Regions from separate parts of the Homo sapiens genome. Here regions 1 and 3 are each linked to region 2. The links come from fine-mapping of genetic effects on gene expression. A gene starts in region 2. Each other region holds a variant in brackets. All regions are shown on one strand. Distances are between the middles of the regions.

Region 1 (5,209 bases), 30 kb after region 2:
GAAGCACAGCTGCTGCCAGTGAATGCCCCAGGTGGGCCAGGAGGAATGGAGTAGACCTAGATCTCCTTGACCAGGACTACCAGCGAGGCTGGGAAAGGACAGATCATAGGTGGGTGAGGCTAGGCACTTGACTTATTCAAGTAACAATACCTGAAGGGTTAAGTCAATCATACGCCCAGCTTTGATTTCTCAACCAGAAGCCAATCCAGCTGGTAAACCCCAGGGCAGTGTAGAGAACCTGGGATTAGAGGGAGATGGTAGCTAGGCCCAAGCAGGAGGAAAAGCTCCACAGGACAGCCCCAGGGATCAGGAACAAGTACCCAGGCAGTTGGGGGACACACACAACATCCCCTAACCACTACATGTGGCCATCACATTTAGCACCCAGGACTTCCTGGGCTGCCAGAATGGAGTCAGTCACTCTGCAGAAACTGTGGGAGATGTAAGGCTCTCACCAGGAATACGCAACTATCCAAGGTAAAGCCTTTAGTCAGTTCCAGTGCAGCCACACTGGGAGGTGACTTTGCCCCCGGCCAGCCCTCTTCTTGGATCTCGCTGTCTGTATGGTGGGAAGATCCTCAAAGCAGCAGCCCGGATTCTCAATAACCTCCGGAGGAGGAGGTCTCCGTCCCAGGAAGAGCCCTCCGCCTTCTCCAAGTGAAAAACAACTCACCTCAAACATATTTCCTCTATAAAATATCTGGTTTCTCTGAAAGTAATAAATATTTACCATGTTCTATAACCAAGGAGCAGCAACGGGGGGACAAGAGGAAGAGAACTTTGCTGTGACTCCAAGTGACAAAATCCTAGAGATTCAGGGTGCCATTTTTATTTCCCATGGAGCTGAGGACCTGAGCACAGGCAGCCACCAGGGCTGCTCAGACCCTCCCGACCTTCAGGGGTGGGAGTGGTTTTGGAGTTCTGATCTTGGGTAGGCAGGCCTGTCATATTGCCAGAAATACAGGCATAGAGGCAAGAGAGAGAAGAAGAGGAGAAGAAGATAGCAGGAAGTAAAGGGGACAATGAAGAGAGCTAAGGGACTCCTTCCTTCTTCCTCCTGGCACTGTCTCCTTCCTCTTTCTGCGACTCCACACCAATCTCTTGGCCACCAGCTGGAATGTCAAACAGTGGATGGTGACAGCAGGCAGGGAAGGGGCCAGCTGCAAGGCAGGCCCAGGCAGGAGGCCGGCAGCAGGAGGAACAGGATGACACCCTTGGGAAGCAGTTGGTGATGGGCAGGGCACACAGATGGCCCTGCTGAGGGCTTTTTCGTACGAAGGTTCTTCCCATCTCCAAGGCCAGCACGTGAGTCTTCTCCAACTGGGCACTGGGCTTGACTGCCGCCACGGAGTCTCCAGGAGGTCCAAGAGTAGGGACTTCTGGGTCCCCATGGGAGAAGCCAGCCTCCCTTCCACCTGGCTCAGAGCAGGATGAGGGGTGGGAGCAGCTGATGCATGGGAGGCTGCTTATGCCCTGGGGCCACAAAAAGGGGGTGCTGCTGGGACTCAAGGATACTTTTACTGCAGGGTTTCCACAAAGGCATCAAACTCGCGGACATTCTTCTCATGCACAGCCAGCTTCTCTGGTAATGAGTCCTGTACCGGAAAGAGAGGGAAGAGCCGTTTATTCAGGCAGGGCCTTGAGGAGGCAGCCAGCCCAGTCCCGAAGAGGGGAGGCAGCAAGCAAGACGAAGCTCAGCCCTAGCTGGGCCGAGCAAGTGGGAGAACGCAGGGCAGCTGCGTAGGCACAGGGTAGGGAGGGGTATATGCATCAGGGCTTTGCAGGGGCTGGAGGATTAATGGAACGGCCTTGGGAGTCCAAGTGGGCCACACACTTAACAAAAGAGAAAAGGACCACAAGAGCAAGATGATTCAGAAATTAAACATGAAATATCCCTGGCACAGATCTGACTGACACTAGAATAAAATACCAAGTGTACAGCTCTACAAATTAAACAGTTTACAAAAGATTTCTTCACACCCTTTGCTGGGCATCGGGACCCCCTGGGGGGAATGTGAACCAGGTGGCCCCACTATACTACTGACATTCTGACACAGTAGCAGGTCTGTGGTAAGGCCTAGGAATCTGTATTTTTAAATTTTTTTCTTGAGACAGAGTCTCGCTCTGTCACCCAGGCTGGAGTGCTGTGGTGTGATCTCAGCTCACTGCAACCTCCGCCTCCCGAGTTCAAGCAATTCTCTGCCTCAGCCTCCTGAGTAGCTTGAGTAGCCTCCTGAGGCGCCCGTCACCAAGCCCAGCTAATTTTTTGTATTTTTAGTAGAGACAGGGTTTCACCATGTTGCCCAGGCTGGTCTTGAACTCCTGATGTTGTGATCCACCCGCCTCGGCCTCCCAAAGTGCTGGGATTACAGGCATGAGCCACTGCACCCGGCCAGAATCTGTTATCTTTATACCAGCTGAGGAAGGGGTGAGTTAGAGATTGAGAGAGAATGGTAAAGACAGAAGCAGAGGAAAACAGAACTGTGAGAAGTTTAACTGTCCTAGAGTATCAACTATTAATAAAAATGCGTCTCTACTGATGACTAAATGAACAGAAGCTGCATCTGCAGAGTTTCACCATCACAATTTCCTGCCAGTAGGGGTTTAAACACGACCACAAGGGAGCGTGGAGAGTCTCTTGCCTCAGAGTTTTTAATGTGGCCTGGAGACACCAACAGCTGAGGGTGGTTTGGGTGCAGCTTCCTGAAAG[G/A]AGAGGGAGGCCTCAGAACTGGCTACGGCTGTGGCATCAGTTGAGAGAATTGGAGCCACACTTTCTTCCAAGTGCATGTCATGATAGGCAAGGGAGTTTAGTGGTTAAAAGGCTAAATTGAGGAACCAGATCCTCTAAGATCAAGCAAAGCTTTGTTTTGCCTGGGTCTGTGTGACTATGAGCAAGCTAATCATTGTTGGTTTTCTCATCTGTAAACTGGGATGAGAAAACTTACCTCTTAGGGCTGTTGAAGATTCATGTAAAACACTTAGAAAAATGCCTGGCACTCAAAAAGCCTTGATTTTTATTTATTTATTTATTTGTTTTTGAGACAGGGTCTCACTCTGTCACCTAGGCTAGAGGCAGTGGCGCAAACATGGCTCACTCCAGCATTGACTTCCCCAGCTCAAGCAAGCAATCCTCCTGCCTCCACCTCCCAAGGCAGCTGGAACTACAGACGGATGCCACCACGCCCAGCTAATTTTTTGTACTTTTTGTAGAGACAGGGTTTCACCATGTTGCTCAGGCTGGTCTTAAACTCCTGAGTTCAAGTGAAGGCCTCCTCAGCCTCCCAAAGTGCTGAGATTACAGGTGTGAGCCACTGTGCCTGGCCCAAAAGGTCTTGGTAGTAGTAATTATTACTTTTTTTTTTTTTTTTTGAGATGGAGTCTCACTCTGTCACCCGGGTTGGAGTGCAGTGATCCAATCTTGGCTCACTGCAACCCCCACCTCCCAAGTTCAAGTGATTCTCCTGCCTCTGCCTCCCGAGTGGCTGGGATTACAGGTGCCCGCCACCATGCCTGGCTAATTTTTGTATTTTTAGTAGAGACGGGGTTTCACCATGTTGGCCAGGCTGGTCTCGAACTCCTGACCTTGTGATCTGCCTGCCTTGGCCTCCCAAAGTGCTGGGATTACAGGCGTGAGCCACTGCACCTGGCTATTACTGTATTGTTATTACTGGGCATGCTTTTCTCCTTAAAGCAAATCCAGGGCAGCTACCATAGGATCTTAATATCTATTTAGGAGGTGATCATTCCACCTCAAAGAGGGACATCTCCTGGCATGGGGCACCCAGTTTGTGGCTTGTGCGGGGCACTCTTCTGCCCCTCAGAGGCAGGAAGAGGAAATGCCCTAAGCAGAGATGGGGTCATTATAATCAGTATCAGGACATCTGGTCAAGTGTGAGAACTGCTAGATGACGGAGTGAGCTCTCTGAGGAAAGAGCAAGAACACAGATACTCAGGACCTCACAATCTCCTCTGCCCAGTACCACTGGCATCTGCCTGGAAAGCTAAATAGCTAATGCAATGGCTGTTAGAGCAACTTGGCCTAGTGGCATCTGCAAGGAGAAGACGTCAGGCACAGAACAACAGGAGCATGTAAGTAATGCTGAGAATGTGCAGAGAAAGAAGGAACCAAGCTCAAGCAAATTCCAGATAATGACTGCTGGGCACAATGCCAATCTCAAGAGTGATCAAAAGATAATTTTCTAATTATGTCTCTTTCCTATTACAGGGAAGATAGAAGGTGGTAGGCCTCCTAGGCCTTTGGCAAAGGAATGACCATCAAATAAGGATGCACTGTGGTAGAGGAAGACGTTTCCATACCAAGTCTTCAGCCATGGACTGTGCTCCAATATCTATGGAGAGGCTGCTCAGCTGAGGTGGGTTCTGAAACTCCCGATAGAAGGTCCCCAGGTCCATCGGAAGAATGTCATCTTTAGAAAAAGCTGGTTTCTTCAAAAACAAGACAGAGTCAGTTTAGCTTGCCTTGAACCACAGAGGAGATAAGCTATGAACAAGTCTTTCCTTCTAGCAATTATCAAAAGGTTCTTTCAGGCTTATCTTAGGGAGAGAAATCTTTACACTTTTCTCTCCCAGACTGTTCACTTCTAATGCTGGTGATAATATTCCTCTCCACTAGTTAAGTTTATGTCCCACTCCTTCAAACTCCTTGCCTAGCCACGAATAGGACCTAAGTGGGTATCAGTGGAAAATCTCCATTTAGAGTTGAATTTCATTATGAATTTTAACCAAAGGCATGACAAAAAATGCCTTGTTGTTTATCGGCCTCCAAAATGTCTCCCCAGACCAGACTCCACCTGTCCATCCCTTCTGTCTACACCAGCACATCTGATCCCTATGAAGGAAATCTGGATCAAGTGCAGTAGATGCTTCTAGGTCTAGTTCCCCGGGACAGCAAAGGTCAAGGAAGGTGACGGCGACTTACAAAGTCTATCATAACAAAGTCATCATGGGTATTGCCACTGCTGCCCCCGCTGGAGCCATCTGAGTGCAGGCTGCCCTGGAGAGGAGATTCAGTCTCTGGGGAATCTGGAGGATTCACCTGTTTCATAGCAAGGCAGGATTAGGGCTGATGCTGTGACCCAGATTCAAGTTACTGTAAACAATCTGAAAATTCTGGGAAGAACTTAATGCTGGCTACAAACCCGTAAGCCGAGGGGCCATGGTTTATAGTCTGTGGGGGATTAGTGACTCT
Region 2 (5,222 bases):
TGTTATTCCAAAGAACAGACCCGTCGCTCTTCAACAGAAAGCAATGAATGACAATTCATAGTCTGAGACTGTCCCTTGCCTGAAAATTCTAGCCTTGCTGTATGTACCAACCCTAAGCTATTCAGTCATAATCCTTACCCAATACTAATCAAGCCCCACCCTCCTATCCCATGTTGAAAGATCCACCTTAAAACAGATTTTGAAAAGCTACTAAGACTCTATAGTGTCCTTCCTTACCGCAATGAGCCATAAACTCTGCTTTGTCTTATCAACAGGTTGTTTTGGTGGGGAAATTGCTGGGAAACCAGCATTTATTTGACACATACCTATGCAAGGTTCTGCTGCATCCTCCCCAGGGGAGGCCACTTCCTGCTGTACAGCAGACTCCACTTCTGTCACCACTGCTACAGCTGCCTCTTTGTCCAGCCCAGGCTGGGTGAGACTTGGGCCCTCAGAGGAAGGCTGGGGCCACAGCAGCAGTTCAGAGCCTGGCAGCACCAGCTGGTACACTTGCAGATGAAGCCTCTCGCTGATCCGCACTGGGGCCACATTTCCCTCACTCTCCAGCCTGCCCCGTTGTACCAAGCTGCAAAGCAAAGTAACAGCCAGCTAGGAGATGCTCACTATTCAAGTGGTCTTCCCCGAAAGCCCCAGTCCCCAAGCAGTCTGGGTCCTAAAGGACGCCGTGCCTTTGGAACATTCACTGCAAAAGAGCACTGAATAGGAAATGACAGTCAGCACCGGGTTCCATCCCAAACCACAACAGAAAACCTCAAAGGAACGACACACTCTCCTCTGACTTACCTAGTCCAGCCAGAACTCTGCTCACAGGCACACACGTCTCCCCATGGGCCTAATGACAGGTTCTGAAATAAACCAACAAAAGTCCTTCTCAAATGTGTTCGAGGGGTCGGGTAGGAATAAAAAAAGAAACTAGATGAAACTTTCCTGGGACAAATTTAAGATGAAACTCCTGGAAGGTTAGAAGCCTCTGGTTCTCCTCTAACAGGACAGTGCTGTCTGATTCTTCATTCAGTAAGGACCAAAAAGTCTGTCTCCTCACCTCCCTCCCAAGGGTATGGAGAATTACTAAATTGAACACATTACTGTCTTCCAGTGAGTACTAAACAGAAAAAGTAATAAGGAACACCAGCTTTTTAAAATGGTATTTATTGGGCCAGGCGCGGGGGCTCACACCTGTAATCTCAGCACTTTGGGAGGCCCAGGCAGGCGGATTACTTGAGGCCAGGAGTTTGAGACCAGCCTCACCAACATGGTGAAACCCTGTCTCTACTAAAAATACAAAAATTAGCTGGGTGTGGTGGTGCACATCTGTAATCCCAGCTACTCGGGAGGCTGAGGCATGAGAATCACTTGAACCTGGGAAGTGGAGGTTGCAATAAGGCGAGATCGTGCCACTGCACTCCAGCCTGGGCGACAAAGCAAGACTGTCTAAGAAAAAAGAAAAATAAATAAAATAAAATGGTACTTATTGTGCAGTGAAACCTTTTATCTTCACTATTTCATCAGCTCCTCCATATAATCCCAAGAGAGCCACTGCTTTGTTTCACAGATGAATTAAATGCGGCACGTAATTTAACCAGCTAGGTGACAAAGCTGGAATTTGATCCCATGCTTTCTTAATTCCAAAAACCTTAGCTCTTGACCTTCCTCACTCACTGCTGACACTGTATGATTCCAGCTTTCAACAACTTTTCAAACCTCGATTCTTTAACTACTGCTGCTGAGAGGAGACAGTCCTGAAGAGAAGGGACAAGACTATCTCCTATCTCTTGAAATACTCTCTTTCTTCAAATTGAAAAGCTGTCTAGCAATGTCCAAACCTCCCCTACATTTTCAAGGGCGGAGGGAAGTCGCTCTATCCTTCAATACCTCCTCCTGCCGTGGCTTTACTCCCTCGCCCTTCTCCTTGGAGGCAGACTCCTCTTCCAGCGGCCCCCACAGCAGGCCGGGCTGCAGGGGGTCCCCGACACACCAGACCCCCAAGCGCTGTTCCTTGGCGAGTGAGGGGCCAAGGGCCAAGCCCCGGGGAAGGCTCTTTAAAGCGAGGATGTCTCGGGTCGGCTCGGGTGGGACGTCTTTGAGGCCCTGCGTACAGCCTTCTCCGGAAGGGTTCCATCCTAAGTCCAGGCCCAGGCGCGGCTCGCGGGCTGCAGAGAGAAGGGAAGACAGTGAGGGAGCCACCCAAGAAGGTGGGAGGTGGGGAAAAGTGTGGGAGGAAACCGCAGGTCCAGGTGGGCCTGCGGAGCCCGAGGGACAGGTGAGGGCTCTAAGGAGGGCCCTGAAAGTTTTGAGGAGGCTCAAGGGCTCTTCAGAAGCCCCCAGCGACTCTGAGGGCACTGGAGGATCCTGGGATCCGGAGGAGAGAAGACTGAGGAGAAAGCTGACCACAGAGCGTCAGATCCACCTGGGCCAAGGTTGAGGGTCGCGGACATCGCAGGTCACTCACCGAGTTGCAGCGCCTTCTTCCCCTCCAAGAGCAGCTCCTCCGCCTCCTCCATTCCGGGTCAGAAAGCCTCCCTACGCCGGAAGTGAGCTTCCTCTTCTCAGCTCCTCCAGGAAACAGTCACGGACTTCCAAATTTTTTTCTCAGGAAAGAAGCCTCAGAGCTGGACCTCATTGGTGCACAGGACTGGGAGTTTGGGAGTACTGGGGAGGCAGAACTCTGTCCGAGAGCAATGCGAACCTCGGATTCCGGAGGTGCACCAGTGATTCGACTAGCTGGGAAAGCGGAACTAATTGTTCCAGCCATCTCTTTGGGAGCGACGAGTCGGACAGTTATGCTGTTACCTCCCCGAGGCAGGAACTTAGGCGGGCATGTGCAGGAAGTGGGCGGGGCTCCTGGAAAGGCCATGTTTGGGGCCGGAAGTGGGTTGGAGGTGTGGCGGAAATGGTTGGGGATAGAAGAGAGCGGGAGGGGGCGGTTCCCGTTCCACCGCGGAGCCGGATGTTTGCCGAGCCTTGACAGGCGTGGCAGAGGGAGCAGTGCCCGAGCGCGGTGAGCTGCTGGGCGCGGGGTCTCCCCGGGTGGGGATGGGGAAAGGAAAGGAGCTGGCCAGGTCGTCCGAAGGGATGGGGTCCGGATGGGGAGGACCGGAGCAGATCCGAGGAGGGGAACGGGGGTGGAACTGGGCTCAGAGGCCTGGCCTTCCTGCAGGGTTTCTGCCCCATTTTGGCGCCTGCAATAAGAGGACTTAATCATTTTCACTACCTTCTTCCTGCCTTCCCCAGGGCAGAGTCCAGGCCGGATCGCTGTCATCCAGCAAGCCGGCGGGAGGGGGAAATCTCCCAGATCTGATCTGGCAAAGCACTAAGAAGAAGAAATTTGGGGGAAGTGTTCCTCCTTGCCACTTATTAGGCCACGCTTTCAGTTCAACTTATTTATTTTTTTAAGACGGAGTTTCACTCTTATTGCCCAGGCTGGAGTCTCGGTTCACTGCAACCTCCGCCTCCCGGATTCAAGCGATTCTCCTGCCTCAGCCTCCTGAGTAGCTGGGATTACAGGCGTCCGCCACCACGCCCGGCTAATTTTTGTATTTTTAGTAGAGACAGGGTTTCACCATGTTGGCCAGGCTGGTCTCGAACTCCTGACCTCGTGATCCTCCCGCCCCCGCCTCCCAAAGTGCTGGGATTATAGACGTGAGCCACTGCGCCCGGCCTCAGTTCAACTTCTTAATCTGTGAAACAGGATAATTGCAAAACGTAACCTGGGCTTTGTAAACCGTGAAGCTCTATGCAAACATAATTGTAGTTGAGAGTTGTAATTGCTGTTGTATTGTGGTGGGATTTGCAACTGGGAGGCCGATTCCAACGTTGAGAATATGATTTCTTTTCTTTTTTTTTTTTTAGACGGAGTCTCACTCTGTCGCCCAGGCTGGAGTGCAGTGGCGTGATCTCGGCTCACTGCAACCTCCGCCTCCCGGGTTCAAGCGATTCTTCTGCCTCAGCCTCCCAGGTAGCTGGGAGTACAGGCGCGCGCCACCACACCCGGCTAATTTTTGTATTTTTAGTAGAGATGGGGTTTCACCATCTTGGCCAGGTTGGTCTCCAAATCCTGACCTTGTGATCCGCCCGCCTCGGCCTCCCAAAGTGCTGGGATTACAGCCGTGAACCACCGTGCCCGGCTGGTCCTCTCTTTCCTCACTGTAAAATGAGCTTAGTAGAACATGCCTCATCAGTGCTATCGTGAGGTTGAGTTTGTGTCCCCAGTTCATGGTCCTATATAGGCCCTCAACAAGTGTGGGTTCCCTTCTTTACTTAGGAGATGAATTAATTGGTTCATTCATTCAACAAATGATAGCATCTACTATATATCAGGTGTCATTCTGAATAGACCAGAAGTTCTTAAACAGTGATTCTCAGAAGGTGTATGAACCTCTTAAAATTGCATACATCTCCTAAGTTTTCTTAGGGAAAAAGTCCACACATGTTACCAATTTCAGAAAAGTCTACAACTTCCTAAAAGTGATTGCCTAAGGTGATCCTTAAGATTTTTGTAAAGGTTTACCTGCTGAGAATGGAAAAATTAATCTCAGAGTTGGGTGTATTTTGCACAGAGTAGAGCAGGCTTGTGGGTGGCTGGTGTCTTAAACAGGCAGGATACTTCATTTCTACTACTTGATGTTAGAATTTCCCTGTGCTAGCTTCCTCACCCTCCCACTGAATGGGAGTTTAACTTCCAGGCTCAGAAGTTAAACTGTGGGTTGGGGGTAGTGGGAGGGGCCAGTCTGACTGGGAGATGGGAACCACTGGGCTTAGTTATGCTGGGAAAGGAGGTTATGTGGGGGCGTTGAGGGAGGTCATGTCTGGAAGAACTGACAGCATAGAAGAGCAGTCACTGGAAAAGAGGTGAAGTTCAAGTTCAGCTCCCTTTTAGATGGTGTCCTTCTCCCTCCTTCACATCCACCCCAGCTCCCAGCTGCTCCTTTTTTTTTTTTTTTTGAAACAGAGTTTTGCTCTTTTGCCCAGGCTGGAGTGAAGTAGCTTGATCTCAGCTCACTGCAACCTCCACCCCCTGGGTTCAAGTGATTCTCCTGCCTCAGCCACCTGAGTAGCTGGGATTACAGGCACCCACCACCATGCCTGGCTATTTTTTTTTTTTGTACTTTTAGTAGAGATGGGGTTTCACCATGTTGGCAAGGCTGGTCTTGAACTCCTGACCTCTGGTGACCCACCCACCTTGGGCTCCCAAAGTGCTAGGA
Region 3 (5,222 bases), 340 kb before region 2:
ATATAACACCTTCAGCAGGGTTGGGATAGCACCCCATGGATTCAAACATATTAAAGTCTCCACAGTGAAACATATAAGTATTCACACTAAGTGGGATAAACAAAGACCAAAATTAGCCCATGAACTAGTTTAGGTCAAGTTTGCCCCACAAATGAGGTTGCTGAAAACTTACCAAAGGACAACTTCAGGTTTTCAAAGCTTTTTTTGAATTGTGAAATTTATTAATATACATAAACCTGTAGTTCTTTCAGCAAAAGCCTGTGAGTGGTAAATGCTCTCAGTTTTCATCTACCTCAAAATATCTTTATTTTACCTTCTGGAGTGAAATTTAATTCAGTGGAGAATTCTGGTTGTTACTTATCTTCTCTCAGCACTTTAAAGATACCACCCAGTTGTCACCTCGCACCTATCACTGATATCAAGCAAACTGCTGTCAAACTCCTGCCATTCCTTTGGAGTTAATCATTCTTATAATTCATATAAACAATTTTCTTTATCATTAATGCAGATTCTACAATGTATCTACCATGTAGGTTTATTTTTATTTATCTTGCTCAGTACTTTAAACTGACTTCTGTTTTTTGTCAGTTCAGGAAAATTCTCAGCCCACATATACATTTTTTGAGACAGGATCTCACTTTGTTGCCCAGGCTGGAGTGCAGTAGCATGACCATAGCTCACTAGAAGCTTGAACTCCTGGGTTCAAGTGATCCTCCCACCTCAGCTTCCTGAGTAGCTGGGACTACAGGTGCACACAACCATGCCTGGCTAAACTTAATTTTTTTGTAGAGATGGGAGCTCGCTATGTTGCTCAGGCTGGTCCTCAAGCAATCCTCCTGCCTCAGCCTCCCAAAGTACTAGAATTATAGATGTGAGTCACTGCACCCCCCAATTCTTTTTAAAATATTGCTTCTTTGCCATTCCCTATATCATTTTCTTCTGTTTCCTATTAGATATACATTGTAGCTTTTTAATGCCTCTTACCTGTCTTCATAGTTTTTTATCTCTTTATGTTATTATCTTTTAAATTATTCATTCTCTATTCTGTCTGTTCAGCCTAAGTAATGCAGATTCTACAATTCTGCAAGATTCACGTGACTGCGCTCCAGCCTGGGCAATAATGTGAGATCCTATCTCAAGAAATACACATGTATATATATTGGCTGAGAATTTTCCAGAACTAACAACAACAACAAAAAACAAAACAGAAGTCAAAGTGCTGAGTAAGATAAATAAAAATAAACTGTCCAGGAGCGGTGGCTCACACCTGTAATCCCAGCATTTTGGGAGGTCGAGGCGGGTGGGTCACAAGGTCAGGAATTTGTGACCAGCCTGGCCAATATGGTGAAACCCTGTCTCTACTAAAAACACAAAAAAATTAGCCAGGCGTGATGGTGCATGCCTGTAATCCCAGCTACTTGGGAGGCTGAGGCAGGAGAATTGGTTGAACCTGGGAGGCAGAGGTTGCAGTGAGCCGAGATCACGCCACTACACTCCAGCCTGGGTGACAGAGCGAGACTCCATCTCAAAAATAAATAAATAAATAAAAATAAACCTACATGGTAGATACATTGTAGAACCTGCATTATTCAGGCTGACCAGACAGAATAGAGAATGAATAATTTAAAGATAATAAGTGCCTCCCAAGTAGCTGAATCTACAGGCGCATGCCACCATGCCTTTTTATATCTAGAGACAGGATTGTAGAGACAGGGTTTCGCCATGTTGCCCAGGCTGGTCTCAAACTCCTGGGCTCAAGTGATCCACCCACTTTGGCCTCTGAAAATGCCAGGATTACAGGTGTGAGCCACCTCAACCTGGCCTCAAAGTCAGTTTTAAATGTTCAACTATTTTTGTTTTCTCTGGAGTAAATTTATGTTTATTGGGTTTATTGACTATCTTTCTCAACATCAGTGTTCCTCATGTATTTTAGAATTTCAGCGTATAAGTTCATGTGAAGTGGGAGGTTTCTACTCTCTCTTGTGGACAGACCCTAGTCCAGAACCAGGT[C/T]TTGTATTGGATGGCTTATGGCTCCATTCCTGATATTAGGGATATCATACAGATTGTCACTGTACCCCTAAGGAGGTTGGACCACTAAGACCTGGCTGTAAGGCTGTCTGCTTCCTCCCACACCTCAAGGTTTTTGTTTTTTTAATAGACGGGGTCTCACTATGTTGCCCAGGCTGGTCTCAAACTCCTGGCTCAAGGGATTCTCCTGCCTCAGCTTTCCAAACAGCTGGGGCTACAGGTGTGCACCACCGCACCTGGCTAAACCTCCAGGTTTTATGTAAGCCATTTCTCAGGTAGCAGTCATAACTTTTTTTGAGTCTTTCTTAAAGTGGTGGAGGCAAAAGGGGCTAGCTCCAGTCTCCTGCACTGTGTGTATAACATTTTGAGTCTCCACCATTCAAGAAATGAGCTTTCAGTTACCTACGCCTTCTGAATCCAGAGCACAGGAGGCATGTGGTTACAGTCCCACTTACTGCATTGTGGTTTAGTGAGTTCCTAGTCAGATGAATTTATATTAATTTTATACATGGCTATGTCCTTAAAAATCTTAGAAAATTTTATGTATCATTACCATGTGTATGAAATGAATAAGAGGCCCAAGTCATGAACACTGCAAGCCATCATGACCAGAAATCCAAAACAAACATTTGACCTACCAAGCTTAAAAATGCATATTTGCACTAATTTTTCATTGTATTTGACTAAACTACAAAGTTCTTTAATAGACATTAATCTTTCCTCTAAAGTAAAACAAAAAAGTTCCTAAAAATATCTTAAAGGCCATACAGAAGTACACCATATGTCTGCCATAAACAGATTTTGCCAAAACGAGTATTCAAATTTCATTGAGCAATTTTTTTTATTCTTTAAGTTGTTGAAGTTTTTCCTTGAAGATTTTAATTTTTAAAAATTTTGACATATTGTAATTTCAAATTTACCAAAAAGTTATAATAGCACAAAGAATTCCTGAATATCCTTTACCTGGATTACTCAAATGTGAATATTTTGCTACATTTACTCTCACTCACTCTCTTTTCTCTCTCTCTCTCTCACACACACACACAGACATATAAGTACATATGTATATACATATTATCATTTTTTGGAACTATTTAAGAGTAAGTTATAGACGTGACGCTTGTTTACTCCTACAGTATTTCAAAAAAAAAAAAAAAACAGAAGTCAAAGTGCTGAGCAAGATAAATAAAAATTAGGAAATAAGGAATTCCTAAAAATATTCCCTAAAAATAATGAAATCTTTCTTCCATCCATCCATCCTTCCTTCCTTCCTCTCTTTCTTTATTTTATTTTTTATTTTTTTGGACAGGGACTTGCTCTGTTGCCCAGGCTGGAATGCAGTGATGCAATCATAGCTCACTGTAGCCTTGAACTCCTGAGCTCAAGTGATCCTCCCACCTCAGCCTCCTGAGTAGCTGGGACTACAAGCACACACAATCATGCTTGTCTATTTAAAAAAATTTTTTTTTGTAGAGATGGGGTCTCACTTCCAGGCCGATCTCAAACTCCTGGCTTCAAGTGATCCTTCCACCTCAGTCTCCCAAAGTCAGCCTCCAAGAGCCACTGGAGCCTAGGTTTAGCAACATCATTGAGAAATGCAGCCTTAAGTTAAGTGGATCCTTGCTGGCGCAAAGGTGGCATGGGAAAGACCACTTGCAGTTGCAGCCTGGCCATCCAGCTATCAAAAGGGCATGAAAGTATTCTGATCATCTCCACAGACCTAGCCCACAACATCTCAGATGGTTTTGACCAGAAGTTCTCAAAGGTGCCTACCAAGGTCAAAGGCTCTGACAACCTCTTCACTGTGGAAATTGACCCCAGCCAGGGTGCAGCATAGCTGCCCAGTGAGTTCTTTGAGAAGGAAAACATGCTGAGCATGAGCAAGAAGTTGATGCAGGAAGCCATGAGCGCCTTTCCCGGCATCAATGAGGCCATGAGCTATGCTGAGGTCATGAGGCTGGTGAAGGGCATGAACTTCTCAGTGGTGGTGGTTGACATGACACTCAGCAGATCAAGAACCAGATCAGCCCCTTTATCTTACAGACATGCAACGTTCTAGGTCTTGGGGACATGAACACAGACGTGCTGTCCTCCATGCTGAAGTAGACACTGTCCATCATCTACTTTGTCAGCAAACAGTTCAAGGGCCCTGAGTAGATTACCTGTATCATCTGCGAATATATCCCTGAGTTCTATCCCTGTATGAGACAGAGTGACTGATCCAGGAGCTGGCCAAGTACAAGATTGACACATACAACATCATCATCACCCAGCTTCTCTTCCCCAACCCTGAAAATCCTGAAAGATATGTGAGGCCTGACACAAGATCCAGGCCAAGTATCTGAACCAGACGGAGAACACTTATAAAGACTTTTGCACTGTGAAACTGCCACTGTTTCCCCATGAGGTGCAGGGGGCAGACAAAGTCAACACCTTCTCAGCCCTCTTTATGGAACCCTACAAGCCCTGTAGCACCCAGCAGCACCACTGCCAGCCCCAGCTGCTGCCATTTTACATCCAACCTTCACCTTCCCCACCCTCCAGGGCAGAGTTTACACAAATCCCTCCCCACCACCGCTGCCATAGTACAAGGGAGCCACTTGGGGAGCAGGTGTATGGTAGATGCACCTGTCATAAATAATTGAAGCATACCCTGAGAATGACCCTGTGGTCTAAGATGAATGTGTGTTCAGAGTTCTGAGTGAAGGAATTTGGGAATGGCCAACCCAGAGATTCATTCTTTATCTATGAGGAACATCTGAACCATCTGATCCATCCCATGGATCACAGGCCATACAGGGGTTCGAGGCCCTTTGTTTTGGGTTGGATGAAGGTTGCCAGGTGGAGATTGCCGGGGTCGAGGGGCTAAGTGAAAATGCTGTATAAACTGCATGCTTTTTTATAAGTGGTAGCAGTTCTCCTGTTCAGCATGCTGCCCCTGGACTGCCCTGTATGTAAATCCCCTCAAAAAACCTTATGTTTCATTTGCTGGCTCCATGTCTCTTTTTCAGCCTCGCAAACATGGTGCCATCCCTACTGAAGTCAATAGGGGTCCAGCACAACAGGAAGCAGGGAGGGAGTCTATTCTCCTGGTGGGTGTAGAAGTGCTCTAGTTGTCCTCCCTGCCATCTCTCCCTGCCTCTTGCTCTTCATAAAATGATCTTAAACCACAAAATAGTTACAATGAAAATGAT

Evidence for each region. PIP is the estimated chance that this variant, and not a neighbour inherited with it, causes the effect.
Region 1: its variant is fine-mapped to the expression of ARHGAP1 in whole blood (TOPMed, PIP 0.93).
Region 3: its variant is fine-mapped to the expression of ARHGAP1 in whole blood (INTERVAL, PIP 0.92).

Annotation. Positions count from the first base shown.
Region 1 is chr11:46,668,641-46,673,849 of GRCh38, reverse strand. ATG13 (autophagy related 13) reads right to left here. Exons shown (of 19, transcript NM_001346311.2): 17 at 4,940-5,056; 18 at 4,318-4,446; 19 at 1-1,595. The coding sequence ends at 1,518. Among named protein-coding and RNA genes, the nearest start is that of ARHGAP1, 29 kb to the left of the region's middle. The variant G/A (reference allele first, on the strand shown) is at 2,711.
Region 2 is chr11:46,698,348-46,703,569 of GRCh38, reverse strand. It overlaps ARHGAP1 (Rho GTPase activating protein 1), which reads left to right and starts at 2,951. Exons shown (of 13, transcript NM_004308.5): 1 at 2,951-3,019. It overlaps ZNF408 (zinc finger protein 408), which reads right to left and starts at 2,539. Exons shown (of 5, transcript NM_024741.3): 1 at 2,471-2,539; 2 at 1,894-2,171; 3 at 805-866; 4 at 327-586. The coding sequence starts at 2,522. RefSeq lists an enhancer at 2,456-2,745 and a silencer at 3,076-3,195.
Region 3 is chr11:47,040,310-47,045,531 of GRCh38, reverse strand. All of the region lies in intron 2 of CSTPP1 (centriolar satellite-associated tubulin polyglutamylase complex regulator 1), which reads right to left. It also overlaps the pseudogene LOC112268075. Among named protein-coding and RNA genes, the nearest start is that of CSTPP1, 110 kb to the right of the region's middle. The variant C/T (reference allele first, on the strand shown) is at 2,011.